3 separate regions of the Homo sapiens genome follow, and regions 1 and 3 are each linked to region 2. The links come from fine-mapping of genetic effects on gene expression. A gene starts in region 2. Each other region holds a variant in brackets. All regions are shown on one strand. Distances are from middle to middle.

What was found. PIP is the estimated chance that this variant, and not a neighbour inherited with it, causes the effect.
Region 1: its variant is fine-mapped to the expression of DCBLD1 in naive CD4 T cells (Schmiedel 2018, PIP 0.95). The same link has a PIP of 0.9 or more in cerebral cortex.
Region 3: its variant is fine-mapped to the expression of DCBLD1 in whole blood (INTERVAL, PIP 0.98).

The regions. Positions count from the first base shown.
Region 1 is chr6:117,541,472-117,552,346 of GRCh38, forward strand. DCBLD1 (discoidin, CUB and LCCL domain containing 1) reads left to right here. Exons shown (of 15, transcript NM_001366458.2): 12 at 1,653-1,740; 13 at 3,057-3,106; 14 at 4,007-4,126; 15 at 6,436-8,326. The coding sequence ends at 6,968. Among named protein-coding and RNA genes, the nearest start is that of GOPC, 56 kb to the right of the region's middle. RefSeq lists enhancers at 6,060-6,149, 6,700-6,759, 6,770-6,819. The variant T/C (reference allele first, on the strand shown) is at 5,417.
Region 2 is chr6:117,476,620-117,487,494 of GRCh38, forward strand. DCBLD1 (discoidin, CUB and LCCL domain containing 1) reads left to right here and starts at 6,055. Exons shown (of 15, transcript NM_001366458.2): 1 at 6,055-6,274. The coding sequence starts at 6,163. RefSeq lists silencers at 1,523-1,572, 5,931-6,510 and enhancers at 6,871-6,950, 6,961-7,010, 7,041-7,090.
Region 3 is chr6:117,456,715-117,467,589 of GRCh38, forward strand. It overlaps the pseudogene RNU6-253P. Among named protein-coding and RNA genes, the nearest start is that of DCBLD1, 21 kb to the right of the region's middle. The variant G/T (reference allele first, on the strand shown) is at 5,893.

The DNA of each region.
Region 1 (10,875 bases), 65 kb after region 2:
TAGAAAAATTTCAAGAAAACATAATGCGGCTTTCTGTGAAGGAGGAACAGAGGTAGGAGGGACACATTCCATTCCATACTTTTGTATACGGTTTGCATTTTGAACATATAAGTATATAATCTATTCAAATAACATTAAAAGTACATTTTTTCAGAATATAAAATAATTTGCATATCAATTTTATAAGAATTTGGAAAGATTAGAAAAACACAAATAAGAAAACAAAAATTAGTCATAAATCAGTATCCGTAGATAATCACCAAATCTCACTGTTTCTAGTCAACTATATTTATGTTTCTAACTTTAAGACAAAAATGGTAGCATATCATATTATTCTGTTCTGTAGCATATATTTTTCATTTAACATTGTATTATGAGCATTTTCCAATGTTATTGGAAGGTTGAAAACCCCAATTATTAATGTCTTTATAGTATTTTTTCACATGGATAAACCATTATTTACTTGACCATTCCCCTGCTGTTGGATGCTTTAAGTTATTTGATTTTCCCCAAATTTTCACTCTTAAAAATAACACCGCTACCGGGCACATTGGCTCATGCCTGTAATCCTAGCACTTTGGGAGGCCGAGGCGGGCGGATTGCCTGAGCTCAGGAGTCCGAGACCAGCCCGGGCAACATGGTGAAACCCCGTCTCTAATAAAATACAAAAAATTAGCTGGGCGTGGCAGCATGCGCCTGTAGTCCCAGCTACTCGGGAGGCTGAGGCAGGAGAATTGCTTGAACCCAGAAGGCGAAGGTTGCCCAAGCCGAGATCACACCACTGCACTCCAGCCTGGGTGACAGAGCGAGACTCCATCTCTTAAAAAAAAAAAAAAAGAAAAAGAAGTAATAATAACACTTCTGTTACTTATACACAAATTTGGTTTTCATCTAAATCCCTTTTCCCCTTCTTCATGAATTGCATTTTTCCACTCTTAAGCATCCCTTTATTTTCTTCCCAGGGATCACAGAAGAGAAAGATGAAGAGCAAATATTTTTCCTTTACTTTGTGTATTTTCTACAAACTTGGGGCCTGCCTTGGTGGCTGTCAAAGTGTCCTTTTTTTAGAGCAGAAAGAGTTGCAGGAAAACATGATGTGGTGTTTCATGCAACATAGTGGAAATGCAGTTTTAGGTCATCAGGCTGCACTTCCTCTCAGTCCGCAGCCCCAGAGCTCTGTAACGAGGATCCCAGTTTTCCAGACTATTGTTATGGTACAGGTCCAAACCCGCCTGCCATCTGGGGAAATGTGTTGCTTGAGCCAAAGTAGGAGCTCCACACTGTGCTTAAATCATTTACCTGTCTAAATAGTTCTCACCTGAGGGGTGGGGGAGGGGTTAAACTCTCCCCTCATTTCAGATTTTTGGAGTTTAATATGGGCCAAGCAACAAGCCCAGTGTGCCTGTTAGTCCCTGAGGAACATTGGAAACTGTCTCTGGGGGGCTGGGGGAGAAATTTTACTTTCCCAAACTTTAGCCAGGATTTTGAATCCTTTCTTTTTGCTTTCCAATATCAGTAAATGCCTAACATGTATTCATTTTCCCCCTATATTAAATGCTTAAAGACTTTTCAATTCCATGTTCAGTTTTAAATCATGAAAAGTGGTTGTTGGTCATTTATGTTGTAACGTGATGGCTTTCCGTCTTCTTTAGGAATAAACATTACAACGGTGGCTATTCCATTGGTGCTCCTTGTTGTCCTGGTGTTTGCTGGAATGGGGATCTTTGCAGCCTTTAGAAAGTATGGTGACTTTACATGTTTAAATTTCTTCTCTAATTATGCGAACAATAAAAAACCAAAAAGTTTATTCTTCAGAAATGCATATGTACAAAAGCAGCATGGCTTCTTTCAAAATAAAATGTTAACTTATATTTTACAAACAAGTTAGATAAAAGTAGAAATGATCGAGTATTACTTTATTAATCTTTTTTTATAGACAGGGTCTCCCTGTGTCTCCCAGGCTGGAGTGCAGTGGTGAGATTGCTCAAACTCCTGGGCTCAAGCAAACCCCCTGCCTCAACCTCCTGAGTAGTTAGGATTACAAGCATGTGCCACCATGCCCAGCTAATTTTTTTATGTTTTGTAGAGATGGGATCTTGCTTTCTCACCCAGGCTGGTCTCAAACTTCTGGTCTCATTTGATCCTCCCAAAGCACTGGGATTATAGGCATGAGCCACCGCACCCCACCATGTATTACTTTATAAGCAGTTCTTGTCATTTAGAGACCTTTGGTAAAGACTTAACCTTTGAGTATTGTTGAAGTATCCTGAAATTGATATATTGCTTTAGAAGTATCTGTGCTTCTCCTCCCTGAAGAGTAAAAGGAATATTAAATAGGCTGCTTGGGGTATCACCAAGCTGCCCCGTAACTCAGCCTCCCCAAGCCTGTTTCCTTATGTATAAAATATAGTTTACCCAGATGAATTCTGAATCTCTTCCAGAACCCTGAGATCCATGTTTATTTTGACAAATGTTAGATGTTGGATCTAAACAAAAAATGGAAAGTATTCTGAAGTTTTCTCTTCTTATATTTTAAGCAACTTCAGAATCTATAATGTGTATATTAGTACAAATAGAATGAAGAATAGTTTCTGCCATCATGAGAGAAGGTACAAAAGTCTCTGGTTCAGGTAGATATTCATAAGTTAAAGCATGCCTTAGTGTAATGTGCTTGTATGAAATGCTTCTAAAGACACCCACAGTTTTGGACTGGAGTATAGTAGAGATGAAGTGAGACCATGTGGTCATGAGGAATTGCTTCAGGATGACTGCATGAGCTAGTGATAAACTTAATAAGGCACTGATTTCTAATATGCAAAATAAGATTAGTATATATTCTTCTAGTGAAATCTTGTGACCTTTCTTATAAATGAGATAAATTTATAGATAATTCTACATATTTGTATGATTTTCTAAAGCACATGGCAGCTGCCATCTCATTTAATTCTCACATCAACCCTATGAGGTAAGTACTATTATGATCCTTATGTTATATAGGGAGAGAGAGGCAGATACATTGGCTTATAAATATTCAGTAGGACTTTTTGTCTTGATAGGAAGAAGAAGAAAGGAAGTCCGTATGGATCAGCAGAGGCTCAGAAAACAGGTTGGTTGAAAACTCTATCTACAATTTTATCTGTCTTTGAGGAAGGGACAGGATCTGCTGATTGAAAGCATAAGGAGGCCAGTGGCCCACATTTATTTGGTTAAAAGACATAAGCCCTGTAGCCTTTAAAGTAGCATATCTATAAGGAAGAAATTTATTGTGTTCTGTCTCTTTATTTTAATGGCCACTTTACTTTTGTTCAATGTCATCCCCTATCATTTGTCAACATCCTTTTTTCTTGGCCACTGGAGTTTAGGCCACGACACTGTCTGCCATCAAGGAGGTATGACAAAAGCCTTATCAGTGAACTGAAGTAGGCCCGTGTTGTTAGCATCTGCAGGCCTGTGCTGTACTTTCCACCCTGAGAAAGTGAGAAAAAGACCAGGCAGGGCTGGTGTGCAGGTTTCAGATAATCCTGCACACCAGCCCCGTCTGGTCTTTTTCTCACTTTCCCAGACACAGGTGCCCAAGCAATGAGTTAGCCATGGTCCAGAGAGAGAGGGCAGTGGGGCAGGACCCCTGAGAAAGCTCAGGGACCATTTGAGACTCCACCTCCCCAGGGTCTAAACACCAGCTGCAGTGTCTCCTCTGCCTCACAGATGCCATGCCAGTGCAGATTGTCGGAGACCATACCCAGATGATCTCACAAAGGGAGAATCTGGGACCTGATGAGGGCAAAATACCTTTTAAAGGCACAGCGGAAAGCATGGTTAGAGTAGTGTTTGCTGTTGTGGTTAATGACCTTGGCATGCTGTTCTTAGCACACACACCTGAGGAGGACATTGATCACTGTCAGCTGTCAGGAGGCAGCCTGACCTCTGACTCATCAAGGAACATGTTCTGGAGGACGCGCATTACATTTCTGACATATTCATTTGGTTTATGTTACCTTTATTCCAGACTGTTGGAAGCAGATTAAATATCCCTTTGCCAGACATCAGTCAGCTGAGTTTACCATCAGCTATGATAATGAGAAGGAGATGACACAAAAGTTAGATCTCATCACAAGTGATATGGCAGGTAAGTGTCATATTTCTAGGACTGTGCTATTAGATTGGAGGTGCTGCTTGTGGGGGAGGGAGACAGGAGAGAAATAAGGCAAAATCCTTTTCTATTTAGATAGGGTCCAGTAAATCTGAAATGTGTTTTTTCTGCATTCTGCACAGAATTACAAACTGACACTGAGATATTACTTAAAAGCCCTATTCAGCCAGTCTTTTCACCTGCAGGGGATATAGTGACATCCATAGTGATAGCCCTGATGTACTACTTGTATCTGGAAGCCCTGAATCTATTTTTGTTACCAAAGCTTTGATTAAGGCACTGGTACAGAGGGGCTGAAAGGAGGAATTAAATACAGTTCCTGCCCTGAGGAAGGTGAGATAGGAAATAAAGGAACTCTCTCAGTATGAGAAGGGCCTCAGTGTCCCTGACAAGCCACATCAAGAGTCGAGCTTCCCAAACCATCTATGGGGAAATGCTTTTTGTTTCTTTTTTTAAAATTTCTACTCCATCATGAATGAATACACTGTAAAATGCAATATAAAATACTAGTAATAAGGAAATTTTAAAGATACAAAATACAAAGCTCTAATTTTTTATTATTAGATTCAACAGACATAAAATTAAGAGTAATAAAGAGTAACTAAGAGTAGTTTCTTGACACTTAGTCTCAATTTCTGCACCTGTCTCTATGGCACTGCTAAAAACAGCTCTCAGATACATAGGACTCTGTGGGGCATGCTCTGAGTAGCACTGCGCTCTGGCTTCTCCCTCCTCACGTGCAGCCTGAGGACCTGCAGTATAGGCATCACCTGGGGGCTTGTTAGAAAGGGAGGCCATAGAACTAGAAGCTCCCAGGTGACGCCTGTGCACATCAGTGACTGGGAGTTGTCAGCCTAAGGGTTGGTTGAGTCACTTTGTGGACAAGGAGAGCATCCTCTGCAACCAAAATCCATCCTCTTGTTCCTTGGAAGTGACATGAAGGGAGAACCTAATTTCTGTTGTCTTATGCCTTTCATTCTCCTTCAGCTTCTAATTCAGTCTCTCCTCCCTCCTCCCTGAATGATCCTCAGGCTCCTTAAATGTGCAATGACCCGGGTTCTGTCTCACCCCCACTCACCACAGTCTCTCCCCTAAACAGTCCCACACCCTCCCCAACTTCCAGCAGTGCCCTTCCCTGCATGTTTGTCCATGCTGCTTCTCACACCCAGACTTCCCTCTCAGTCCCCAGTCCATAATTCTCAGCAGCCTGCTGGACACCTCCACCTGCAGATGTCACCCGTTCCTCAGCAACCACAATCGAATCCA[T/C]TGTTCCTAACCCTCACCACAGATGCTCTGTGCATTCCTTGTCTAATGGCTTCTCGACTGCACATCCCAGCCTCAAAGAGTCCTTGCCTCCCGGCTTTCCTCACACCCCACCTCTCATTGGTAACAAATTCCTGATTCCTGTCCCAAAGGGTCACTTTTCCTCTTTCCTAGTTTGTGACTTCTATGTGCATTTCTCTTTGCTTTTTTACCTCTCACTTTTTGATCTTTTCCTCTTGGGTCAACCTCCACAGTTACCTCTGAAAGTGCCAGTCTTTCGTTTCCCATAGAATTAAACCAGACTTCCTAGCAAGACAATCAATGCTTTTCCATGCTCTAACGCGTGGCTAACAGCATATACTCAGGATGTGCGTTCGAATCCTACTCCATCGCCCCATTGTGTGACCTAGGAAAAGTTAGTCTCTCTCTGCCTTGGTTTCCCATTTGTAAAATGGAGTAACAGTTCCTACCTCGGGATTTTTTTGAAGATTATTAACATCTTGCTATTGGAATAGCGCCTGGCAAAGAGTAGGAGCTCTATAAATGGGAGCTCCTGGCATCATCCTCACTGTCACCACTAGGCCCTGACCTGTTGCTTTGGTCCTCATATCCTATTAAACAAACTACTCTGTGTCCCTCATACTCTGGCCATATCAACTCTATTTTCGAGGCTGTTTTTTTCTCCATTTCCACACTGTGTGACTTCCACCTCCATAGCTTCTCCAGAGCCAGTTTCAGAGCCACTTCCTCCCTGAAGTATGTCCCCATGCCCCAGGACGTCGTCGTCGCCCCCATCTCTGAGAAGACCCTGCGAAGCTTCCTGAGCAGGCGGTGCGGTTGTGTACTGCCTGCGGGTGGCTTCTGTGGCTTTCACATCAGGGTTTTCCGCAGTGCCTGGGACACCTGAGGGCACCCGGGGGGAAAGTCAGTCACCACGACCTGAAGCAGAGTATCCCCGTCTGCCACTGACAGGCCGGCCCGTGTGTGGTGCCCGCTAGCTGCCATCTGTCTTGTGGTTTCAGATTACCAGCAGCCCCTCATGATTGGCACCGGGACAGTCACGAGGAAGGGCTCCACCTTCCGGCCCATGGACACGGATGCCGAGGAGGCAGGGGTGAGCACCGATGCCGGCGGCCACTATGACTGCCCGCAGCGGGCCGGCCGCCACGAGTACGCGCTGCCCCTGGCGCCCCCGGAGCCCGAGTACGCCACGCCCATCGTGGAGCGGCACGTGCTGCGCGCCCACACGTTCTCTGCGCAGAGCGGCTACCGCGTCCCAGGGCCCCAGCCCGGCCACAAACACTCCCTCTCCTCGGGCGGCTTCTCCCCCGTAGCGGGTGTGGGCGCCCAGGACGGAGACTATCAAAGGCCACACAGCGCACAGCCTGCGGACAGGGGCTACGACCGGCCCAAAGCTGTCAGCGCCCTCGCCACCGAAAGCGGGCACCCTGACTCTCAGAAGCCCCCAACGCATCCCGGGACGAGTGACAGCTATTCTGCCCCCAGAGACTGCCTCACACCCCTCAACCAGACGGCCATGACTGCCCTTTTGTGAACACAATGTGAAAGAAGCCTGCTGTGGTACTGAGCGTCGGGCTGTCACAAGGCACTGGAAGAAGGGAGCCTGCTGGTCCAGAGTGTGCGTGTGTATCGGTGTGTGTGTACACTTGCATGTGTGTGTGTGATCCAGTAGGATCCTAGAGACAACCTGTCATACTGTTTACAAAATTGTGCAGCTGGTTTCGTGCTGACCCTTAGGGTGCGTCTGTTGGGTTTTGTTGGGCTAGAAAAATGAAAATTTTCAGATGGCGTTTTCATTCCTCTGACTGATATTGAGCTGCTTTGGTGTTAAAGGTGTAATGTGTACAGAGTTGTATTTAACAATAATAAAAGTAACTTAAGTTTGCTCTATCAGATTTTAGTTCTGCACAGAGGTTAAGTGGGAAAATGCAGCTGTTGCAAAATGTATATAAATAGTATGTTCATTTTTTTCAGTATATTATCTGATACTGTGTTAGCAGCAGGTCTGCTTAAACCTAGTCTTGTTGTTATTGAGTCATTTCCTCTCCTTTGATAACTAGAACTGAAAGCATTTTTAACATTCTTCTCCTGGAAGAAATGAATTACTTGAAGCATGAAAAGCACACCAGGGTGGTTGTTTATTTAGCAATTATGACTGTAGATTTAAAAACAAGCAAAGAAACAACACCTCAGCAGCTGCCCGTTTCCTTAGTCTCCACTTCAGAGGGGGATGCGAAGAGGTCGGCCCAGCTCCGGTGACCATGAAGGTGGCACAGGAATTACAGTGTGAATGGCTGTGTCAGATGTTTTCGTACCTCAGATTAAAAATATTGCTGAGGTCAGACGCCACAATTTTCATGACTTTCTTCAGAAGTAGCACATTTTCGTGACTTCCGCTGTCCTCTGAAAAACAAAGTTATTTGGAACATGTTCATGCAAAAGTGATTCTGACCAAGTCTAAATCGAGCTTTTCTACTGACATGAAACTGTTGGAAACTGATCTCATTTTATAAGAAATGATTTTCCCCTCAAGGAGGCGTCTGTAATTCCAGAACAGTCCAGACATCAGCTGTACCTCATGCTCAGTAGTTTTTATTTGAGTTTCTTTTGTGAGTTAACTATGGGAGATTTAACCTCTTTTGCCAAAGAGGGAAGTGTGTGTGTTTTTTTAATAGAAAATATGGACCAAAAATTTTTTTCCCTGAAGAATGTATTATAACCCTATTTGTGTGGTTATTACATCCTGTGAAATGTATATATGTTAAAATAATGGGGGTGCTGGAAGGTCATGGCAGACTAGCTGCTGGTTAGTGTGGAGGGGAAATGGTTTACTTTGTAGAGTTTACATGGTTTTATGCGCACACTAATTGTAATAAACTATGCCAAACCAAACTGCCCCTGACTCTCACTAGTCAGCCCTGCTCGCTGGGGTGTTAGAGGCACTCAAGGTTCAGCTTCTGTAAAAAGGCAGGTGCCACAGTGGAAAGAGAAAGAGCTTGGTGCCAGATTAGGCCAGACCCCAATCTACCACAGAAGAGAAGTCTGGCTGCTTCTATAATGATGAGACTCGGTTTCCTCATGTTTGAAAATGGTGTTGTCGTGCTTTCTTCCTCCAAAACTTACTGATAAAAATTAGTTGGAACATTTATCAAAGTGTTGTCTATAGTAGGTCCTTTTTTCTAATGTAAGCCTTCAGTGGGCTGTTTACAGAATTTTAATATTGGAATATTAGACCATAAGCATAGGCCTAGATCTACAGCCCTTCTTTACAATAGAGCTGTCTTCATCTATCACAGTTCTTCTGCGGCACTAGTGATCTAATCATGACCAGTGGGAGAACAGGACTTTTTTTTTTGGATCATCACTTCCTCAGGGTAGACTCTGTAGAACAGGTTGGGTGAGTGGAAAGGTCTGATAAACCCTACACAGCTAAACCTAAACTAGAGGATAAGGGCAGAAAAATTTTACATCTTTCTTTTTTGGTGTTTTGCAATATCAGCATATATGATAAGGCGTGAATGAGACAATTCTAATTGTCTGACTTATGTTATCAAATCCTACTGGGAGGCAAAGATTGTATTCTGCCACTTCTTAAATTTGCGGTTGAAACACATTTGCTATGACAAGCAAGACTACACTTACACAGGCTCCTGAAGCTTTGCTCTGGGTTTTATTATTGTTATTTAAATGTTCATTAACGTTTACAGTCAGCCTAGAAAATAGAAAGGATGTGAGAGATTGTTTTGTGTTTATTTTATACTGCTTTGGATTCTTAACATGAAATCACATTTGTAGGCACAACTGTATATACCATGAATAGCTATGAGACCTTTCCCCACTCTGACCAGTCACAGCAGTCCAAGTGTGGCCACCGGGTTGACCTCACTATTCCTAAAATGCTTATCTTGCATTCATGCACGTACCAAATAGTTATTGAGGTTCTGAGAGCAGTGTTTACCCTGTACTTTCTTGAGTTGAAAGAGAATGCCTAGTCTCTCCCCCAGATCTGAGAGCAGTTGAATCCCTCCAATGAGAAGCTAGGGTGAATACAAACACCCCAACCTGCAAGTATTTCCTGCCCAAAACACAGCCCATGCAGTCACCCCATGCCACATTGCACACCCACCCACACTGCTGTGTTCACATCCCACTACAGATCCCCTGTCTCCCACTGATCTTGCTCCCAGCCTCTCCTTGTTCTGGGATAAATTCCCCTAGGGGCTTTAAAGGTTTTTATTTTGTCTTTGGTATTCTGCAATTTTACTACTATGTATTGAGCTATGAATTTGTTTCTGTTCACATTGCTCAGGACTTGTGCCTCTTGAATCTTAGCATTTATCAACTATGAAAATGATCAGCCCTTTTTTTTGGTTGTTTTCTTTATTTTCTCCTGGAAATCCTATTGGATGCTCATTAGAGCTTCTCATCCTATCTTTGATTCTGATACCTGAGTATTTCCATTTATTTATTTATTTATTTATTTATTTATTTTTAGACAGAGTCTGGCTCTGTCACCCAGGCTGGACTGCAGTGGCACTGTCTCAGCTCACTGCAAACTCCGCCTCCCAGGTTCATGCCATTCTGCTGCCTCAGCCTCCCGAGTAGCTAGGACTACAGGCGCCCACCACGAGGCCCAGCTAATTTTTTGTATTTTTAGTAGAGACGGGGTTTCACCGTGTTAGCCAGGATCGTCTGGATCTCCTGACCTCGTGATCCGCCATCCTCGGCCTCCCAAAGTGCTGGGATTACAGGCGTGAGCCACCGCGCCCGGCTTCCCTTTATTTCTTAAGACATTAGCTAGGCCTTGTGAAGAATTCTGATTTATTTGGTCTGACATTCCTAGGAATTCATAATAGACAGGTTTTCTTCTTATTTAGTCCGCCGTCTTGCTGGAATGATGCCTCCCCAACAGGTACAAGAAAGCATATTTATTAAAATATCAGGCCAGGCACGGTGTATCACACATCCCAGCACTTTAAGAGTCTGAGGCAGGTTGATAGCTTGAGCCCAGAAGTTTGGGGCCAACCTGGGCAATGTAGTGAGACCTCCTCTCTACAAAAAAAAAATTAAATTAGCCAGTTGTAGTGGTGCAAGCCTGTAGTCCTAGTTACTGGGGAGGCGGGAGGATCACTTGAGCCCAGACGGTGGAGGTTGCAGTAAGCCAAGATCACGCCACGGCACTCCAGCCTGGGCAACAGAGCAAGACCATGTTTTTGTTGTTGTTGTTGTTTTTTAAAAAGAGAAAATAGCACAGGTTTAGAACCATACAGAACTTGGGTTTAACTGGAGATTTAATCTTTGTAACTATGTGATTACAGGCATATTACTGGTGCTTTCTAAATCTACTTCTTTATTCCCAGAATGGAAATTATTATAAAAGGGCTGTTGTGCAGACTATATTATAGTGTTTTGTATACATTAGATGATCGATCAATATTAGC
Region 2 (10,875 bases):
GAGCAGACTAGTGTTGTAAGAAAAAACCTGTTGTGCTTTTATTCCAATGTTCAATTTATGAAAAAACTAAATAATACTCCTTTAACTTTTAGCTAATATGTTCATATACAGAATTTCTTTTACAAGATTAATTTTTCACAAACATTCCACAACTTGCCCAAATCTTCAGCTTTTTCCTATCTAACTTAAAACAATCCTTTAACCTTTTAATCTAGGCAAAAAATCCACATTCCCATGGTTTCTTATATAATCTTTACCAAAAACACATTTCACTTTCCTTACACAACTTGCATGTAAAACTGTTTTTATTTCCCAAAGATTACTTAAGTTATGTGAACTAAAAGGCATTACACTTCTTACTTTTCTGACGAAATGTTTGGTTTAAGCACTTATTATTTTTTAAGCCAATTAATTAGAGCTCCTGTATATATAAACATCACATGCACAACACAGATAAATAGAAGAAGATCTACTAGTTGTAAGATTTTTCATTTGCCCGTGTTTCTTAATTGAATTACTGGCTTCAGGGTGGAACAGGGACAGGAAAACAGGCAGTTTCTACAGCCTAATAAGCAGGCACAGCTGGAAGGCAAAACAGATTCCCCTAAAATTAAGGGTCCCATTTTATACCAGATCCTGGATCCCCAAAATGAGAAACACTATGGAAAAAGACAGTACAGTGATTTTACTGTGCATTTCATTGCAAAGCAATCTAAAGCCAATCAGTCCATTCTGTGATTAGCCCATCCCTCATAGGAGTCTTATCTCTGGGTGTGTGGGGGCTGGGGAGACACATCTGCATACCTTCCAGGTGGCCAAGAGCATACTTCTCCAATCCAAACACCAAAGAGTCAAGTATTCGCCCATAACTGCCATTAGCCTTTCCTAAAAGTATATTTCCTACCTAGTTATTATACACAAAGTAGTTTTTGATACCCAAGAGTCAAAACATCAGATAACACAATGTAATGCAAAACAGAACAGAGCCTAAGATTTTGAGAGAGATCTATCCACTTTCAATTACTGATTTCTCTGAGGAAAACAGAGGTTTTTCCCAGTGCTGGATCTGGGGCATCTCCTCTGTTTTTCCCAAGGAGTCCCAGGCTGTTAGAACTTGAATATCCACTTTCAATTAAGTGGACTTTTCACCATAGCACTCTTTTTTTTTTTAAAGTCCTTTTAAATCTCTTACTACCACCTTTAGCCATGCCAAACTGCCAATATTTCTGGCTTTTGAACTTTACCAAAAATAATCTCACAGGTGAAACCCATAAGCCTTAACTATTAAGCTACAACATTGGGAAGTTTCCATTGCACTTCCCAGAAGGAGTCTAGAGCAACCAATTTTGAGTTTGCAAAGGCATAAATTTTGGGAATAACTATGACATGAACCCCCAAATTCCTGCTCCCTGGATGGCAGAGACCAAGAGAAAGTACTGCCACATGGTTACAAGGTCAAGCTCCCAAGGACATTTTTCAACATGTGGTCTCTGGGCAAGATGAAAGAGTGAACAGTTAACCTAACAGAAAAGTTAGAAAAGAGAAAGAAGAGAAAGAGAAACACAATTAGGAAACAGCTGTCCTGGGGTTGTCATAAGAACCAACTCAGATCAAGTATATGAAACTTCTTCAAAAACTACTTCTTGAAATGACACAAATGTATCGCATGTAGTACAGAGGCAACTAGAATTTAAAAATAGGGCTGGCCCTGGAAAGTGATACCGTAAATTAGTGAATAATGAATCAAACACAATGACGGAATAAGGGAGAAAGCCTGGATAGGAGAGGCATGCTTGCCTCAATAGCATGCCTAAAGAAGGAATCGTAGGACAATGGTAAGTTTTATCAGAAATGAAAATTAGAGAAAGGCCACTTTGGGAGGAAAGTGTTGACTGTGCCCTGCTGAGCTCTGCCACAGGGAGGGAGGGGTCTGACCTTTGTAGCCTAGCTGTTTAGTGCTTGTGGCAAAAATATCCACATGGGGGTGACAAAGACTCTCTGTGACCAAACAGTCAAGCTCCCCTGAGCCTTCTTTTTATCTAGGCATTGTCCTTGAACCCTGTCTTTGGCCTGCCTAGTCCAGCTTTAGCAAGAATTCTGCTAAGTTAGTTCAGAGAGAATACCCCACCCTCTGTATTGGATCAAGTTTCTCCTCCCTTATCTTTGACATATAAGTCCTTGACCTGCATTCAGCAAGAATCCCATTAAGCCAGTTTACAAGAATCCCCTCTACCCCGATGTCTCCTCCTAGTGATTTTTCATCATGGACTCCCTCACCCTGCCCACTGGATTCACTGAATCCCTGAATTCAAAGTTGAGCCTGATTGCTCCTCTATTGCCGTAATCTTGACACCTATTACAATGCAAATCTGAACAAGTTTCTACACTTTCCCTGCTTCCCACTACCCCCCAGAACCCTGAGATCCTGCTTCTGCCTCCCACTCTGTATTCAGGCTCAAGTTCACTGATAATGTAGGCTCAATCTTTTTTTTTTTTTTTTTTTTTTGAGGCAGAGTCTCGCTCCCGCTCTTCGCCCAGGCTGGAGTATGATGGCATGATCTCGGCTCACTGCAACCTCTGCCTCCTGGGTTCAAGTGATTCTCCTGCCTCAATCTCTTGAGTAGCTGGGATTACAGGCACCCACCACCATGCCTGGCTAATTTTTGTATTTTTAGTAGAGATGGGGTTTCTCCATGCTGGCCAGGCTGGTCTCAAACTCCTGACCTCAGGTGATCCACCTGCCTTGGCCTTCCAAAGTGCTGGGATTACAGGTGTGAGCCACTGTGCCTGGCCAGGTTCAATCTTCATAAGCACCCTGTGATCTCTGTTTCTGAGCTTTAAAAATAATATCTTTTCCTTGTCTGACAAACATTGTTTTCCTTCTAATTAATATCTTCACCTCTCCCAGGCCCTGCCAGACTTTTAAAATCCAGGTTATATGCCCTTCTTCTGTGATTCCATGGTACCCTGTACCTCTGCTATCCCTGTGCCTATCAATCGATATAATTCATTTTGTCTGTATAATTAACTTTCCCAAATTTTTATTATTAGATCATAAATCAGGAAGAGAAGGTATTTATTTTTATTGTACTGCTGTCACATTGTTTCACATATGGAAAATGTCTAAAACATTGGGAATTACAATTGAACTTGAGATTTGGGTGGGGACACAGATTGAAACCATATCAGACATCTATAAGGGCTTCAATTTTATAGCTGATAGTTTTCTTCATAGAGTCACAGGCAGGGTTACTAAATGTTAAGGATAAATTGAATTAGGTCATTGAACTGGACTACAATCTATTTTGAAGCTGTCTGTTTAGAATCATGCTAGGTTTGCAGTTCTGTTTAAATTCTGTCTTACCTAAGCAAGACAGAACACATAATTTATAATATAAAATAAGGCAGCTCCTGACCAGCTGTTATGTATTTTTACAGAAGAGCTGGCAAATGTAAGCATAAATTGCAGTAAGATATGCAAAATAAGGACTGGATGGCAAGTGGGGGGATGGGTTAGAAGTGCAATAGCCTATGAGAGACACTTCCCTAGAGATATTTCCCATCTTAGTATGTGAAATGTTTATAGGTAGATCCTAATAAGCATAATTTTTCTTAATGGAACTTGGTTCTTAGATTCCATCATGCATCATTTTAAAAAATCAAAGTGGAATCGTCTCAAGATTAAAACAAGTATATTAATTCAACAAGGCTTATTTCATTGTATAGAAAAATATACTGTAGTTCCAGCTACTCAGAAGGCTGCGGCAGGAGGACTGAGACCAGGAGCTGGAAGCTGTAGTGCACTGTGATCAGGCCTGTGAATAGACACTGCACTCCAGCTGGGCAACATGGTAAGACCCTTTCTCTAAAAATGATACATACATATACATATACATGTATACACACACACACCCCAGTATATATATTTTATAATCTGTTGTATTTTCACTTTTTTCTTTTATTATGACTTTCTTAACTAGAGATTTTACATTTCAAGGAAGGAATGGCATGATGAAATCAATAGGATCTGGCTGGTCTTTCTGTTTCTTCATTGTTACCAGATCCTAAATCTTTCCCCTTATCTGGCTCAGGATTCAGGTGTACAGCAGATAATTCCATTCCCATCAAGGTACTGACTGAAGTTAAAAAAAAAAAAAAGTCACCCCTGAAAGCCCACCTGCCTCACATTATGAATTCCTCACTGTTAAACAATACTCCCCATTGTCTTTGCTTCATTCATAGCTCACAGTGTCAAACCTGTTGGAGCCTGGAAGCAGCTGCCCAAACTCACTTAGAAAGAATGAAGAGAAATAAGAAAAAGCGAAAACTGAAGTTAGGAGGAGACTCAACGTATCAAAGTATCGTTCTGTGTTTTTGAGTGTAAGAATACTCAATATTTTTATGGGTGTGAATTTACTTTCTGTTAAAAAATGATAAAACCTACCGTTTATTAGGTACTTTCTCTACATGCTAGAACCCAATATACACATTCAGTTAGGTACTTTCTCTACATGATAGAACTTAATATACAAATTCAGTATACACTGAATATACACATATATACCCAGTTTGATTCTGGACCTCAGCTCTTCAACAAAGCTGAGGTCCAGAATCAAACCGGGATCCCCTCCATTTCTAAAGCCCAAGTTCTTTCATCTAAGATATGCTGCCTCAGAGAAAGCAAAGCCCCAAAGACAATCTCATTTGAGATTTTATCAGCTTGTTTATTTAGTTAAAAAAAGAAAAGGAAGAGGAAAAAAGGAACGCATGTATGAAATGAGTCTGTCCAGGGTATCCAAAGATCACGAGGGGCCAATGTTTGCCATTGGAGGGGCTGTTGCTTCCTCTCCGCCTCCACGCTTCCCTGCGCTGCACCTCTAGGTGAAACTTCAGCGTGCCGCGCGGTGGTGCGAAGGTGAGGGCAGCGCGCAGAGGAAGTAAACGGGGACTACAGGGGACCAGAGACGTGAGATAGTCCTTAAAATACATATCTAATCTGTCCTCGTCATTTTCCACTGCCACCACCCTATTCAACTACTCGGTGATAACCCTGTAATTCTCCAGTCTCCAATCTGTCCTCCCCAAACCCTTCTCCGCAACTCCTCAAGAGGATCATCGGGTGGAGTCCTTCCCCCTTCTGAACCTTCCGTGGCTGCTCACTACTCCGAGGACCAAGTTAAACATCCTTTAGGTTATTTAGCTGCACGTCCTGGCCCCTACTCTGTACACTAGCTTCTACATCTGGCCGTGTACCCACCTGTTCACTGTGCTCCAGCTACCTGGCCCTTTCCTCCTTCAGCTTCTTTGCACAACTTGTCTGTTTTGGCTCCTGCTTTAATCTCAGCTTTGATGCCACTTAGGCCTTTCCTAGCTGATTCCCGCCCTCACCCCTGTTACCCGCCATCTAATTACAGCTCTCTAAATGTGCTTCAACAGCACCTTTCATGTCACTGATTGCAATTTGCATTGAATACTTGCCTGATTATTTTTGTCTGCAAGTGCCACATGGGTTTAGCCCTGCTCCTGACAAGCACACTGCTGAACTGAGTAACTTTTGAATGAATGAATGAATGAGTGAATAAATCAGTGAAGGTCCTACTTGGCACTGTCATCATCCTATCATCAAAATATTTCGAGTCCCTCGGTGTTGCTATCCCTGGCATGCCCATCCCCGCGGGCTGGCAAAACCCTGGAGGGGGCAGCCTCCCAAGGCACCGCCGCGGGCTCAGCCCATCTAGGAATGACTCCCGCACCACGCGGCGAGGGGCGGGTCCGGCGGCGAGGTGTCCTGCTGCCTAGCAGGTTCACGTGTACTGGTGCAGGTGGGGAGGAAGGCAAGGAAGGAGCGCAGCAGGGCGCGCCAGATACGTGGAGGGGAGCGCGGGCGGCGCCTCGCTCGCCTCCGGCTTCGCCGTCGGTCACTGCCTGGGAACGCGACTTCCTCCTCTAGGGGCCGACGTGCGGGGCGGGGCGGGGCCGGGCGGGAGACGCCCCCGCAGGGCTGGGCTGAAAGCCGCCCCAATGGGATTCGGTGCGGGGCAGCGACTGCGCCCCGTCCCGGCGCCGCGCTCGTCCGCAGAGGAGGCGGCCCGGCCCGGGCAGCTGCGGCTCGGGATCCGTCGAGGGGAGGCCGAGCTTGCCAAGCTGGCGCCCAGCGGGGTCATGGTGCCCGGCGCCCGCGGCGGCGGCGCACTGGCGCGGGCTGCCGGGCGGGGCCTCCTGGCTTTGCTGCTCGCGGTCTCCGCCCCGCTCCGGCTGCAGGCGGAGGAGCTGGGTGAGTGGAGCGCGTCCGGCTGGCGGCGGGACCCGAGGCGCCAGGGGCGGGCTGAGGGCTGCGGGGCGGGCCGGGCCGGGCCGAGGGCTACGGGGCGGGCCGGGCCTGGGGGGACGGAGCGCGGGAGGAAGTCGGGCTCGCCGCCTGCCATCCGCGGAGTCCGGCTCTACCCGCGGGGCTGGGGGTGAAGTAGGTTACTGCATTCCTTGTCGCTCCCCCACCAAACTCCTTCCTTCCCCCAAAACCAGAGAATTAACCTGGCGTCTCTGCACTTTCTCTCCGCCGCCCCCCAGCCCATTTCACTTAGTTTCCAGACTTCCTGACTCTGCTGGCCCCGTGAGAAGTGACCTGACCCCGAGGGTCGCCTTAGGGGACAGCCGTGTGCAGGGCCAGTTCTTTCCAGCTGCCTTTTGACAAAGCCGCTCCTCGGCCGGCGCTGGGCCCTGCCCTCCCTGCCGTCGCTCCTCCCGCGCGGAATTGGAATCCCGGCGTGTGCGTTCGGGGCTCGTGCGGAATGGCCGGGGCACGTTTGCCGAGGTTGGCCTTGGACGCTGGCGAGCAGGCGGTGCTGCCACCTCCTCTCGAGTGTCCTGCTGGCGCCGCAAGTTGGAATCGTGTGGCTTCCTGTGTATTTGAGCCGGTAGACTCTCAACCAGGCTGCTTTTTCTCTGGAGCTGGTCTTTGACTTGGAGTTAGACCTAATTAACCCACAACCGAGTTTACCCTCTGCCTGTCCAGCATATTAAAGCAGCAACCCCCTTTACCAGCCCTGGGTGTCCCTATTTCATTCGTCCTCATTAATTAGTGCTTTTTTTTTTTTAATAGCAAGGGCCAGCTTTCTGCCGAGTTGTTTCAGTGTTTCCTCTCCTCCCTTGCTCCTGGCCGTATATGCCTGAGCTTATTTAATGGCGCTGAGTCTATCCGGAGTACTTTGACAGCTCCCCCAACCACCATGCTTTCTGGTGAAACAAGAATCAAAACTAAAACCAATGCCGGCATTTTTTTCACTGAACTATGCCTCCATTCTGAAACATTGATACTCGAGATGGTGGTGGTGGTTCCTAAGTTTATATTACATACCAGTTTGTTTAAAAAAACAAAATCCCCAAAACCCTAAAGTGATTTTGTCTGGTACTGTAGCACAATACTAGGCAGATTGTAAAATTGTAATAAATACGTAAGATTTTGTTAAATGCGTAGGACTTTTATAATGGATGTTTTAAATATTTTTATTTTTTTCTCAACTCACAGTTTGAAGGTGCACCTTTAATACTATACGTCTGTGAGAATCAGTCCAGCAGTATGTTCCTGTACTAATCTGGCCAAAGCTGTCACTTATCTTTCCCAATAAAGATTTAGATTTTGTATGGTCATCCAGGCTGTTAACTGGGCACTTTGTGAGAGCGGTTCTCTAGGAACAAGTGTGATTGCTTAGATTCTTTTTAAAAACCTATTATCATTATTGTTATTTTTGAGACAGTGTCTCACTCTGTCGCCCAGGCTGCAGTGCAGTGGCACGATCTCAGCTCACTGCAGCCTCAACCTCCTGGGCTCAAGCAATCCTCCCACCTCAGCCTCCTGAGTAGCTGACACTACAGGTGCATCCCACCACACCTGGCTAATTTTTGTATATTTTGTAGAGACAGGGTTTAGCCATATTACGCAGGCTGGTTTTGAACTCCTGAGCTCAAGTGATCCACCCACCCCGGCCTCCCAAGGTGCTGGGACTACAGGCATGTGTGGTTGCTTAGATTCTTACTGGGCTTCAAATCTTTATAATTTTATAATGTTAGGGTTGTGATAAAATGCTACCATCTGTGTTATAGGCAATTTCGTATTAGACTTTTATTTATTGTGTGGTTTTAGGAAACAAATGGTATAACTTAACCTGAATGTTTATAAGCCTAATCAATACAATTAATTAATTTTTTGTGTGTCAGAGTCTGGTGACCCCATAAAGCTATACTGGGTCCTTTGTAGGGCAACTGCTTGCCTATCTGGTGTTTTTCTTGAATTAAAGTTTTAAAAAAGTGTCCACCCCTCCCGTTGTTTGCAGCCAGCCAGGTCCAGGCATTGGGGTTTAGTGGCCAGAGCTGGGATTATTTCGGCTCCTTATGCCCTGTTCTTCTGGATCCGTTTAACTAAAGGTACATATTTACATAGATTGTTTCACATAATTTTGACCTTTCATAATAAGACATTAAGTTGATCATTAGTTTTTATTCCACTTGTATAAATTCGTAGGTTTGGATTTAGTCCAAATTTATTACCTTGATATACATTTTTGTAGAATAAAATACCCTTCATTTGTGTAATGAATTTGTGCAACCTAAAACTCCCTGCTTCTCTCTCCACCACAAGATTTGCAAATGGTTATTAGCTAAAGTATTCCCTTGTGATTTAAGTGAAGAATCAAAATGAGCGCTTGATCTCTGAGGAAACTTCCAAGTGTAGATTCAAATCTTGCATACTTAAGAATTGCTTCAAAACCCTCTGCCCAACTCTTAATTTGTTATTTAGAAGGTCTGCTGTTAAATCATCTGTCATTTATTTTGGGTTAGACATAGGATCAGCTGATAGATGATGTTTTAGGTGAGTGGCTTTTTTAAAAATCAGCACAAATTTATTCTGTCACCTTCTGTACCAGTGTGTGCACTCACCCTTCTGTTGTCTCATCTGGACAGCTAGCCTTGTAGACTGTAAGATCCTGAGGGCAGAGACTGGGACTATATAGTCTTTGTCTTCCTAGTATCTGACAAAGGTGCTCAGTGTTCCTTGAGTTGAACTGAACAATCTCTTTGTGTTTAGGATATATTTTCAAATGACTTCCTAACTAATGGAAACCAAGTAATAAAGAGCCTACTGACATTCTTTATAAAGGTGTACATCTGCTGCTTCTACTAATTAATTTTGTTTATCAAGCCCAGCTCTCTTGGCATGCTTATTTCTATATGTAAGGATGCCTTTTAAATGAAAATACAGCAGAAAGAAGGGAACATGCCAGCAGAACAATATGTACAATATCTTTTGGCTCTAGTAGATATAATTTGTAACACTCAGAAACAGTGAGTTATATATTAATATTTCAGAGAAGAAAGAGGTTATGTTAAAAAATTCATTAAACAAATCAAATGGTATGTTTAAAGCAGAATTTGAACTCTGAATAATGTCCCAAACTGTTTTTATTAACTTTTCATGTTACAATTTGAACCCTTTAACCTTGTGGAACTGACACAGACTTGAAAATCATTTTAAAAAACCACAGCTTGGAAATTAGTAAGGCATCTGACATTTATGAGGAATTATGTCTTATTTTTAAGATACATGGGGGCATGAATTTAATTGCAGCATTTAGCAAAGGTTTTAGTTGTGTTAAAGCAGGGAAAAAAAGTTTGTTCTGGGAAATATACCCCATAGTGTTTACACCTATTTCTACATGTGTCTTAAAGCATAAAGTCAACTCTGTACGTATTAGAGCAATTAGTTGTTTTTCTTTATTAAAACAAATCAATAAATGTTAGCTATCTTAGTATTCATTACTGTTTATTACTATTGATTTGACAAATATTGAGGACTCTTTGTTCTGTCTCCTCCACTGCCTCTCTGACTTCATTCCCTGAAATGCTCCCCCATACTCAGGCCTCTCTAGCTGTTTGGTTTTTTTGCTATTTCTCCAAAATGACAAGCACTGTTCTACCTCAGAACCTTTGCACATGCTGTTCTCTGCCTGGAATAGTCTTGCCCCAAATATCCACAAAGCTTGCTCCTCCTTCAGTGTTTGTTTAGATGTTGTCCTCTCAGGGAGAACTTTCCTAAGCACTTGAAACCCTCTCTTCATTCCCAGAACTCCATATTCCCCTTCTTAGCTTTCAGTTTTCTCTAGAGCAGGGATCCCTAAGCCCTGGGCTGCAGACTGGTACCTGTCACTGGCCCGTTAGGAGCCGGGCCACACAGCAGGATGTGAGCAACAGGTAATGGAGCATTACCGCCTGAGTTCGCCTCCTGTCAGATCAGCCGGGCATTAGATTCTCATTGGAGCTTGAACTCTATTGTGAACTGCATGTTTGAGGCATCTAGATTGCCACGCTCCTTATGAGAATCTAATGCCTGATGATCTGAGGTGCAGCAGTTTCATCTAGAAACCATCCCCCTCCAACCCAGCCCCATACACGGAAAAATTGTCCTTCACGAAACCCGTCCCTGTTGCCAAAAAGGTTGGTGACCACTGCTCTGGAGCACTTACCCTCTTCCAACAAAGTGTATAATTTACACTTTAAATTGACTGCCTTCCTCCTACTAGATTATAAGGTCTATGAGTTTTGTGCCTTGAACAGTGGCCATATTGGGAGCTCAATAGGGGATGGGTGCTTAGTGAGGATGGGGTGAGAAGGCAGTGAAAACACAATTCCTGCCCTGTAAGACTCAACCTCACTCTAGTTACGAAATCAAAACTGGCCAGAGGTGGCTCACACCTGTAATCCCAGCACTTTGGGTGGTTGAGGCAGGCGGATCACTTGAGCTCAGGAGTTTGAGACAGCCTGAGCAACATAGCGAAATCCCATCTCTAGCGAAAATACAATAAAACTAGCCAGGTGTCGTGG
Region 3 (10,875 bases), 20 kb before region 2:
TAGTAATATCAAACCATATCTCATCAAATAAGACTGAGGGATGAGGTGTTGCACATTAGCTATTTTTCAAATAGCTGAAGTTAGCCATTTCAGATGACTTTTTTTAAATGACAATCTATTGAAAATGGATTAGATATTTTCTTACCTAATGAGCAGAATACGGAGCAGAAATTTGCTTTGTCCTGAGGCTACAGATGTTGGTTGTTGTACTGGACAAGGCTCTCCTCGATGGCTAAGGTTTCTAAGTGCTGTTTGACCCTCTTGCTACCTCCTGCCCATTGTTCCCAGTATGTCTGCAGCCCTCTTTTCATTTTTCCTTCTAGAATACCCCACCCTAGTAACATAGTAATAATTGAAAATGTCCAGCGAAAGCCTGATAAGCAAGCTTGTTTAATCTGTGATTTTAATTTTACACACAAACCTGAGTCAACAGATTCTGATAGGAAGCTCCGATAACAACTACACTCCTCTCTAGTGGTGAGAATAGTACGTTTACTCCTTAGCTCAATACGCTGCTTTTTGTTAAGTCCAGGCTGTACCTTGATCCAGGTGGATAAGATGATAGAAAAATTGGCTGGCAAATCATCATAATAACAAAGTTCAAGTTACTTGCGTGCCTGTGAAAGCTGTAGTCTCCAAGAGGGGCTCCCAATTAATAGCACCCCTCTTACCTACCCAGTGATGAGCAATTTGAGTAAGAAAGTAAGAATAGAAGTCATTACTAATTAAGTTCAGCTGGAAGTGTAGAACCCAAATGGGCCTACTGGCTAAACCACAGAATTAACATTTGCCCACTCAATCCTAGGAGGCCCAAACCTAAGCGAGTCCTCACAACGGAGGCTGGCTCCCAAAAGAAAGACAAAGAGCTGAGCTATGCATGTTTCAGGTGTCTTTCTAAATTTACCAATACCTCTTTTTTTTTTCCAGTGGACAGGGAAAAGTTATTTACTAAATCAGTAAATGAATGTTTGTGTGAATGAATAAATTTGATTCTTCCTGGATGATGAGTGGGAAATTTAAAAAATGTGGAACACGTCACAAATTTGCGTGTCATCCTTGTGCTGGGCCATGCTAATCTTCTCTGTATCATTTCAATTTTAGCATATGCACTGCTGCCGAAGTGAGCACTAAATTTACCAGTGCCTCCTAGCTGCTGTTTGCATTCAATCTACTCAGCTTTCAATTCCATATAACCAGCCTTCCCTTACTTCTTCATCTCTTCCTCCTTTAATTACCTCAGGTGCCAGCTAATCATACTCATTTCAAGGCACGGCATCATCAAGGTCCATACCCAGCCCCTTTTTGTTTATTTACATATGTATTATTTATCTACCATCCCTGCTCTCTTTCCAGCTACAGGCAACAGTTGTAATGTGGTTTATATGCTTTCTTGAATTTGTGTGCAACCTTGTAAAAAAAAGTATTGTTGTTTGTGTATGTTAAACCCTTCTATAAAATTACATATAATGGTTCCAATCTGCATCTTACTTTTCTTACTCTATACCATGTTTTAAAGACCTGTTTGTGCTGTTACATGTACATCTAGTTCATTGCTTCTAAATGTGATATTGTGCTCCATGGTGTGCATCCACCACGTTGTACTTGCTCATTCCAAGTGATGGACATCCTAACTCCTCTACTTCCTCATTCATGTCCTGTTATGATCCCGGCAGGGTAGTAGAGCTTTGGGTACCTAATTTGGTTGAAGACTGCAAAATCACTGTCCATAAGCTATACTAGCCTACATTCCCTCCAGCAGTGCAGAAGGTTGCCTGTGACCCAACACCACCACCAAATGTTGTATTATCCAACTATTTTTGCCACTCTCGTCACTGTAAATTGGTATCTCATTGCACTGAAAATTCGCATTTCTCTTGTTACTAAGAAATTTTGACAGCTCTTTATACACTCGTTAAGCATTTGGATTTCTGTGAATGATTGTCATATTTATTTTTCTCATTTTAAGTAACATTCTCTGTATTTTTCTGAGGAATTTGTGGATACAAACATGTTGCAAACATTGGTGTGTGTTTAGGAGTTACAAATATCTTCTCCCAATCTTTCCATCCTTCTATAAATTTTGTCCATTGCATCCTTTACAAAATAGAAACCTTTAATTTTTTTGCAAGAAAATTCTGAAATGATATTGCCTTATGGTTGCATTTTTCTTCTCTCTGATACCAAAATGAGCCTATATTCCTTCCTATGACAGTTTAGGATAGGCTATTCAAGTTTATTTTTGCCCCTCACAATCAAGTTACATGATGAGTTTATCTATGATCTCATTAATAAAAGATTCATATAACCTACATATCTACATACAAATAATACCTTTTTGCTTTAGATGAAAAAAAAGGTTGGTTTGTTTTAGTATCAAGGTTGTGTGGGCAAACAGACTTGGTAACTGTACAGAATAGGAGTTGAATAAGAATCTCCTCCCCTAACTTCTTCAGTGGATATGAACCAAATTACTCTAAGCAGTAGATTAATAAATGGGAGAAGACAAAATGGGCTGTCCAGACCTGTCTAGAAACCCACAAATCAAGCCGAGCCTAAATCAGGCCTGAGCCCAAATCTCAAGGGCAAAGACTCAAACTAATTTATCATCTTTAGATTGACATGGAAATTGCAAGGCCTTTCATTGTAGTCTTGCCTTGTGGTCCTCCAGCACAGTGTGTGCTTTTAACACACTTTTAAGTGCTTTTAAGTGCTTTTAAAGGTTTCAACAACCTTTAAAAAAAAAAGTGCTTTTAAAGCACTTTTAAGTGCTTTTAAAGGTTTCAACAACCTTTAAAAAAATTTTTAACTTTTAAATTTGAGATAATTTTAGATTCACATGCAGTTGTGAGAAATTATGTAGAGAGATCTAGTGTACACTCTTTACCCAATTTTTCCTACTGATACCATCAACAAACAATTGTGCAATATCACTACCAGGATATTGATGTTGATACAGTTAAGACACAACCATTTCCATCACCACTAGCATCCCTTTTGTTGCCCTCTTACAGCCACACCACTTCACCACTGCTGCCCCCTACCCCTTACCACCTGGCAACCACAAATGTACTCTCCATTTCTACAACTCTGTCATTTCAAAAGTGTTATATAAACAGAATCATATAGCACATGATGTTTCGTTATTGGCTTTTTTCACTCAGCACAATATGGAATGAATTGGCAATTTACTCAAGCTGATGTATGTATCAATAGCTTCTTGCTTTTTTTGCTGAGCAGTATTCCATGATATGCATGTGGCACTGTTTAACCACTCATTCATTCATTGAAAGACATCTGAATTGTTTCCAGAATTTGGATATTATGAATAAAGCTGCTATAAACATTTGCGTACAGGTTTTTATGTGAATATAAGTATTCCTTTCTCTGTGATAAACACTTATGAGTGTGATTGCCGGTTTGTATAGAGTTGCATGTTTAGTATTTTAAGAAACTGCCAAATTATTTTCCAGAGTGGCTGTACCATTTTATAATCCCACCAGGAATGAATGAGCATCAGTTTCTCTGTCTTCACCAGTATTAGGTGTTGTCACCATTTTATTTTAGTCATTATGATAAGTATTACTGATAACATATAGTCTTAACTTGCACTTCCCTAAGCTATAATGATGTTCGGCATCTTTACATGTTCTTGTTTACCATCCATATATCCTCTTATGTCATATGTTTCTTCGTGTCTTCTTCCCATTTTCTAATGGGATTGCTCGGTTTTTTTACTGTTGAATATTGAGAGTTCATTATATGCTCAGGTACGAGTCCTTTGTCAGATATGTGGTTGGAAAATATGTTTTCCATGCTGTAACATGTTTTTTTATCCTCTTAGGCTTTTTTTTTTTTTTTTGCAGAGCAAATTTTTAAAATTTTTACATAGTTCCATTTATCAACTTTTCCTTTTATGGATTGTGCATTTTAAGTAACAAGTCTAGGAATTTCTACCTAGCCCTAGACACTGAAGATTTTCTCCCATGTTTTTTTCTAAAATTTCATAGTTTTAACACTGAAGATATAATCCATTTTGAGTTAATTTTTGGATAAATTGTGTTTGTTAAGGTTCTTGTTTGTTTTTGTTTTTGTTTTGCTCACAATACGTACACCAACATAGACCATATCCTGGGCCATAAAACAAACTTCAATCACTTTAAATAATTGAAGTCATACAGAATGTGTTTTCTGACCACCATGAAATCAAACTAAAAATCAATAGCAGAAATATCTCAAGAACTTAGAAAAAGAGGAGCAAACTAAAACTAAAGCAAATAGAAAGAAGAAAAGAATAAAGATAAGAACAGAAGTCAATGAAATTAAAAACAGAAGGCCAGGCGTGGTGGCTCATGCCTGTAATCCCAGCACTTTGGGAGGCCGAGGCAGGTGGATCATCTAAGGTCAGGAGTTCAAGACCAGCCTGGCCAACATGGCGAAACCTCGTCTCTACTAAAAGTACAAAAATTAGCTGGGTGTGGTGGTGGGCGCCTGTAATCCCAGTTACTCAGGAGACTGAGGCAGGAGAATCCCTTGAACCGAGGAGGTAGAGGTTGCAGTGAGCCGAGATCACACCACTGCACTCCAGCCCGGGTGACAAATGTGAGACTCCATCTCAAAAAAAGGAAAAAAAAAATTAAAGACAGAAAAACAATGGAAAAAATAGGTAAAATAGATTTGGATCTTTGAGAAAATCAACAAAATTGACAAACCTTCAGCAAGACTGACAGAAAGAATAGAGAGAATATATAGATTACCAACATCAATATATAAAACAAGGGATATCATTACAGATTTTGCAGACCTCAACAGGAAAATGATGAAATACATTACTATAAACAACTCTACACACATAAATTTGACAACTTAGATGTAGTGAACCACTTCCTTGGAAAACAAGAATTACTACAATTTACCCAATGTGAAAAAGATAAGTTAAATAGCCCTTTAGCTATTAAGAAAATTGAATTTATAATTTTAAAGCTTTCAAAAAGAAGTCAGTAGGCCCAGAAGATTTCACTGGAGAATGCTACCAAATATTTAAAGAAGAAGTAACATCAATTATACACAACCTTTGGAGAAAAGGAGGGAACGCTTTCCAATTCATTTTATAAAGCTAATTTTTCTCTCATACCAAAACAGACAATATAAAACAAAACAGAAGAAACAACTTTCAGGCCAATATTTCTCATGACTATATACACAAAAATCCTTAACAAAATATTAGCAAATAGAATTCAGCAATATATAAAAAATGTACACCATAACTATGTTTATTCCAGGGATGCAAGGCTGGTTCAATATTTGAAAATTAATCAGTATAGTTCACCATATCAACAGACTTAAGAAAAACAAAATTTACATGGTCATATTATTTGATGCAGGACACACATTTGACAAAATTCAGCAGCCACTAATGAAAAAAACTTTCAGAAAAATAGATATAAAAGGGAACATAAAAGGGAACATTCTCAACTTGATAAAAAAAATCCACAAAAAAATCTATAGCTAACATTATACCTAATGGTGAAAGCATGATGCTTTTTTCCTAAGATTGGGTACGAGATAAGGATGTGTTCTCCTCTTACTGTTCTTATTCAACAGAGTGCTGGAAGTTCCAGTCAGTTCAGTAATGCAAAAACAAAAACAAAGCAGGCAAGGAAAAAAATAACCAAAACAAGCAAAAGAAAAGAAAAGAAAAGCATATGTAAAGGAAGAAATAAAAAAATAAGACTGTCTCTATTTGTAGATGACATAGTTGATTATGTAGAAAATTCCAATGAACCGACCAAAAATTTCCTAGGCAGCATAAGTGAGCACTTGAAAACAAATATGTGTTCTGCTGTTAGTTGGTGAAGTGTTCTATAAATGTTAAATAGATGCTGTTCATTGATG[G/T]TGTTGAGTTCTTGTATGTAATTTCTGACTTTTTGTACAGTTGTTCTATCAATTGCTGAAAGAGGGGTGTTGAAATCTCTAATTATAATTATGTATTTGTCTATTTCTTCTTTCAGTTCTATCAGTTTTTGCCTCACATATCTTATGGCTCTGTTGTTGATATCCACATATTTTGTATTGCTACATCTTCCTGTTGGACTGAACTTTTTATCATTTATATATGTATAATGTCTTTATCCCTGATAATTTTCTTTGCTCTAAAGTCACTTTATTAGATAATATGGCCACTCTTGCTTCTCATTGATTAATGTTTGCATGATATACTTTTTCCATCCTTTTGTCTTCAACCTGCCCATATCATCATATTTGAGGGGAGTTTCTCGTAAACAGCATGTACTTGGGTCATGGGGTGACTTAAGTTTGCCATTATATTTTTTCTTTTCTATTTGTTCTTTCTGTTTTACATTTCTCTATTTTCTTTTCCCTGACTTTCCATGCATTACTTAAACATTTTCTAGAATTTCATTTGGATTTATCTATAATGTTTTTGAGTGTATCTCTCTATACCTTTTATTCAAGATATGGAGAGAGAGAGATCTTAATCATAATCTACTGATGCCGTTATTTTTCCTGTTCAAGTGAAGTATAAAAATGTTACCTCCTTTTACATCCTTTTACTTATTTCTTTTGTAATAAGATAGTCTTATACAGTATATTTCTTCCACATACATTTTTAAACACATCAGGATCTGTCTGAAATAATAATAATATGATAATACTATATTTTTGCTGTACCTGTTTAATGTTCAGATATGTTTAGATACACAAATACTTACCATTGTGTTACAATTGCTTACAGTATTCAGTGCAGTAACATTTTGTACAGGTTTAGCCCAGGAGCGTGTACCATGTAGCCTAGGTGTGTAGTAGGCTATACCATCTAGGTTTGTGTAAGTACACTCTATAATTTTATTAGTTCATTTTCACACTGCTGTAAAGAACTACCTAAGACTGGATAATTTATGAAGGAAAGAGGTTTAATTGACTTACAGTTCCACATGACTGGGGAGACTTCAGGAAACTTTCTATCGTGGCAGAAGGCAAAGGGGAAGCAGGCACTTTCTTCACAGGGTGTCAGGAGTAAGAGAGAGCATGGGTGGGGAACTGCCAAACACTGTTAAACCATCAGATCTGAGAACGAACTCACTATCATGAAAACAGCATAGAGGAAAACACCCCTATGTGTCAATCACCTCCCACCAGGTCCCTCCCTTGACATGTGGGGATTACAATTTAAGATGAGATTTGGGTGGGGACACAGAGCCAAACCATATCAAAAATGCTCAAACAATGACGAAGTCACCTAACAATGCATTTCCCCATCATTAAGTGACACATGGCTGAATTATGTTATGAGACCCAGGAATTTATTTATACTTTCTCTTTTAGCTGGCTTTCTCTCTGATGCATCTCCAGCAGAAGAGTGATGTACGGCCTCATGGAGCTCTCAGGTGGAGGTAGAAGTCCAGGTTCCCCACATGGCCTCCTTGACATTTGAGGTGGGGGGACATTTGTGGAGTCAGTGGAGACAATGTGGAGGGGATGTTGGGATGCTTTGTTACAGCCTCAAGAGGGTGAAAGTCTAGGTGCCCCACTTTGCTGGTGTGAGTGACAGTAGGGCCACATTTGACTGTGGTGTTTGAATGGATTAGAGCAGTTACTATCTAAAAGTTTTCCCTCATGCTCTGCTGACCCTTTTCTGATCCTTTGACTAGAGAGGACTGGCTTTTGTTGGTTTTTATTTTATCATTTTTGTTTTGTCTGTGCCTGCTGGTGTTTGCCGGTTGCAGGCTTATTCAGTTCTAAGTCTGGTGTATGTAAAGCAAAAAGGAAACCCAGGTGACTCACCACTGTGTCACTTCTCAGATCCCAATATCTCTAGGCAGTCTGCCTTCTCTCTTCCTTCTAAAGTCTTATGTTTGTACTATATATAATATTCTGCATTTTTAGTTATACTTAGAGGAAGGAATAAGGAAAAGTGTGGCTACTCCATCTTCCCAGAAGCTGAAGTCTAATAGCTTCTTTTTATATAACACATTTTTAGAACACAGCACATTGTACATTTCTAGAGCAGATTTCCCACAGAGCGAATTAAGAGGGTTATGGGATTTCTGTGATATGTGAACATACAGAAGAACAAGGGAGAAATAGGCTTTGCCATCATGAAAGACAGGAAGGCAGAAAGGAAACAGTTGTCTCTAAAATAATAATCTAGTCACTCTTGTGCACTAGCAGAAGAGAGCCAGTGACCTAGTATAGTGTGCAGAAGTACCTGGCTGAGACTCCAACAAAAGCTTCAATTCCTCAGCCTGTCATTCCCAGTGTTGTGCTTTTATTCTGTGAGCATTGACGCTTTCTTTTAATACCTCAGTCAGACATGCATGAGAAGCATAACAGGGGCCTTGCTATCCCACATGATCAGATTTTTTTACCCCCAAACCAAACTGTTTAGTTTGCTTGGCTCTGGAAACCCCCAACCCTAATTCTACTTGTGGCCTAGTCGTGACAATTTTCTTGGTCTCAACAATTCCCAACATTGTGCCATTTTGTCTTTGGCAGTTCCCTGTTACGTTCTAATTGGAGATCAGGCAGATTAGCCTCCTTCCAAGGAAAAGCAAGACGCTCTTAGTCTCCCAGGGAAGGTCTTGTGACTCCAGAAAACCTAAGCTTATGCTCTGAATCCCAGTTACACTCAATAACTAGAGAAGAAAACTTAAGAATATAGGTACAAAGATGTCATGGGTCCCAGGCCCCAAATCTGATGAATAGTACTTAATTCCAAGTCCCATTGTTAATAAGGAAGAATATCAAATGTGTCCCAGCACTCAGGGGAAGTCTTTGGAATAAAGCCAACTGGGTTCACCTTCAAGGAGGGACAGAAAACCTTGGCTGAGGAAATGAGACAGGATTGATATTCTTAGTTTTCAATAGCTCCTCTTAAAAAATAAATCTTCAGTAAGATGTGATCAGTTACCATCTGAAAAAGATCTCTGAGCTGCAACAAGAGAGCAAAGCTTTGTAAAAATGGATCATAGAATAAGCATGGAGGACCCTTTAAAACTGCAAAGAGGAAGAGTGTGGAAAGGAGGTGGAGGAGAAACTGTTTAGCTCATATTTTAACCACAGTCTGCCAAATTTGTCTCCTTAAAGATCTCATTTGGTAAGTTTGAGAAGGCAGTAAAGAGCAGGGTGCCAAGACAGGGAGGAAGTGGTGGCACACACTTGTGGTCCTAGCTACTCAGGAGGCTGAGGTGGGAGGATTACTTGAGCCCAGATTGAGGCTGCAGTGAGCCACGATTGCACCACTGCACTCCAGCCTAGTTGAGAGAGAGCAAGAGCCTGTCTCAAAAAATAAAGAAAGAAATAAAGACAGGGGCAAGGAGAGGGGAAAAGGAAAGTGCCTGGGATCAGACTGCTTGGCTTCCAACAGGAGTTCTGCTAACCAAGTGTCAGGGCTTCTGGATTCTTTATAACCTGCCTCTCAATCTCCTAATTCTATGTTCTCTATCCAAATAGAAGTTCTATTAACTAAGGGAATAGTTGTCTGAATAAAGACTTTGGAATTAAACCTCATAAAGGATTCCCTATTTACTTAGAAATCTCTGCTAAGAAAGATTATTCAACTTCTTGATCTCAAGATTTTTATCTCTCTTGTTTTTCTCTGAATATTGATCATTTTCGTTTGGTCTGGAGTCATGAAAATGTTTAAATCACATGACACAACATTAAGATTTTCAGAGAAAATGGAAAAAAAAGATCTCTTTAAAAGGCAAAGCCTCTATGCTCTCAAACTTGCTGAAAATTCAATCCTTCATGTATTTAACTAAATAAGGAACTTTTCTCAGGATACAAATTGTAAATGTAGGAGATAAAAGACTATAGAAAAGTGTATGATAGGTTTTTTTAATTAGTAAAATTTACTTTTAGAGCAATTTTAGATTCACAGCAAAACTGAGTGGAAAGTACAGAATTTCTGTACACTCCCTTTCCCCACACACTAACAACCCCCGCATTAGCAACATCCGCCACCAGAGTGACTTTTGAATGGATACTCTCATTGTCCCATGCTTCATACCTTTCCTCTCTGTGGGCACTGCAAAGTGTTCATGGGTGTCCTATTCTTGCCCCATCCATGTCAGATACCTGTATTTGAGAACTCTCAGATCTCAGGTCTGAACATCTGAGAGTCACAGTGGGAGGCCAGGGGATGGGAACCACATTTTTATTGTTTCTATTACTTTTTAAGCTTCCAGTAATACTTTCCAGACATCCCAAGAGATTGCCTCCACTTCCTTGGAGTCTCACAGCATCCTGACAGCCACGCAGGAGGTGTTCCGGGTCATCCATGCCTCCTTCTTGTAGAGATGAGTGAACTGAGGCTGAAAGATGGGGAGGGGTTTGCACCAGGTCATGGAGTTGTGGAACCAGGGCTAGAACCCAGTTTTCTTTGACTGCCTGTCCAGCACCTTCTCACTGTGTCATATATCACATAAGCATAGCAGTTGAGGGCAGGAACAGGGCTGTGCTAAGGGCTCTTCAGTTCTCCTACTCCCTCCTCTCAGCCTCCCCTGCTCTGACCATATTGGTTTTAATTTCTCAGAGGTTTTAATCTCTCAGTTCAGCCTAAAGGCTGAAGGTCAGTATCAGGTTCAGTATTGGAAGACCCTCCAGCCCTCTACCCAACCAATGGTAACCTCTGCCTCCTGCTGTCCGATCTCTGTTAACTACTTGCTCCCCAGGGTCCCTCTCCAGCTCTTTCTACTTTGGTTCCTGGCTCAGATGGAGGGGCCCAGAACAAAAAGGGTGAGGCACTGCAGCCTATTAGCTGAGCCTCCTGAGACTCAGCTTCTGGGTCTGATCCCAACACTCAGGTCAATAGTTTGTGGCTATTATGAGTGAAGTGGAGAGTTCTCCATCTTTATC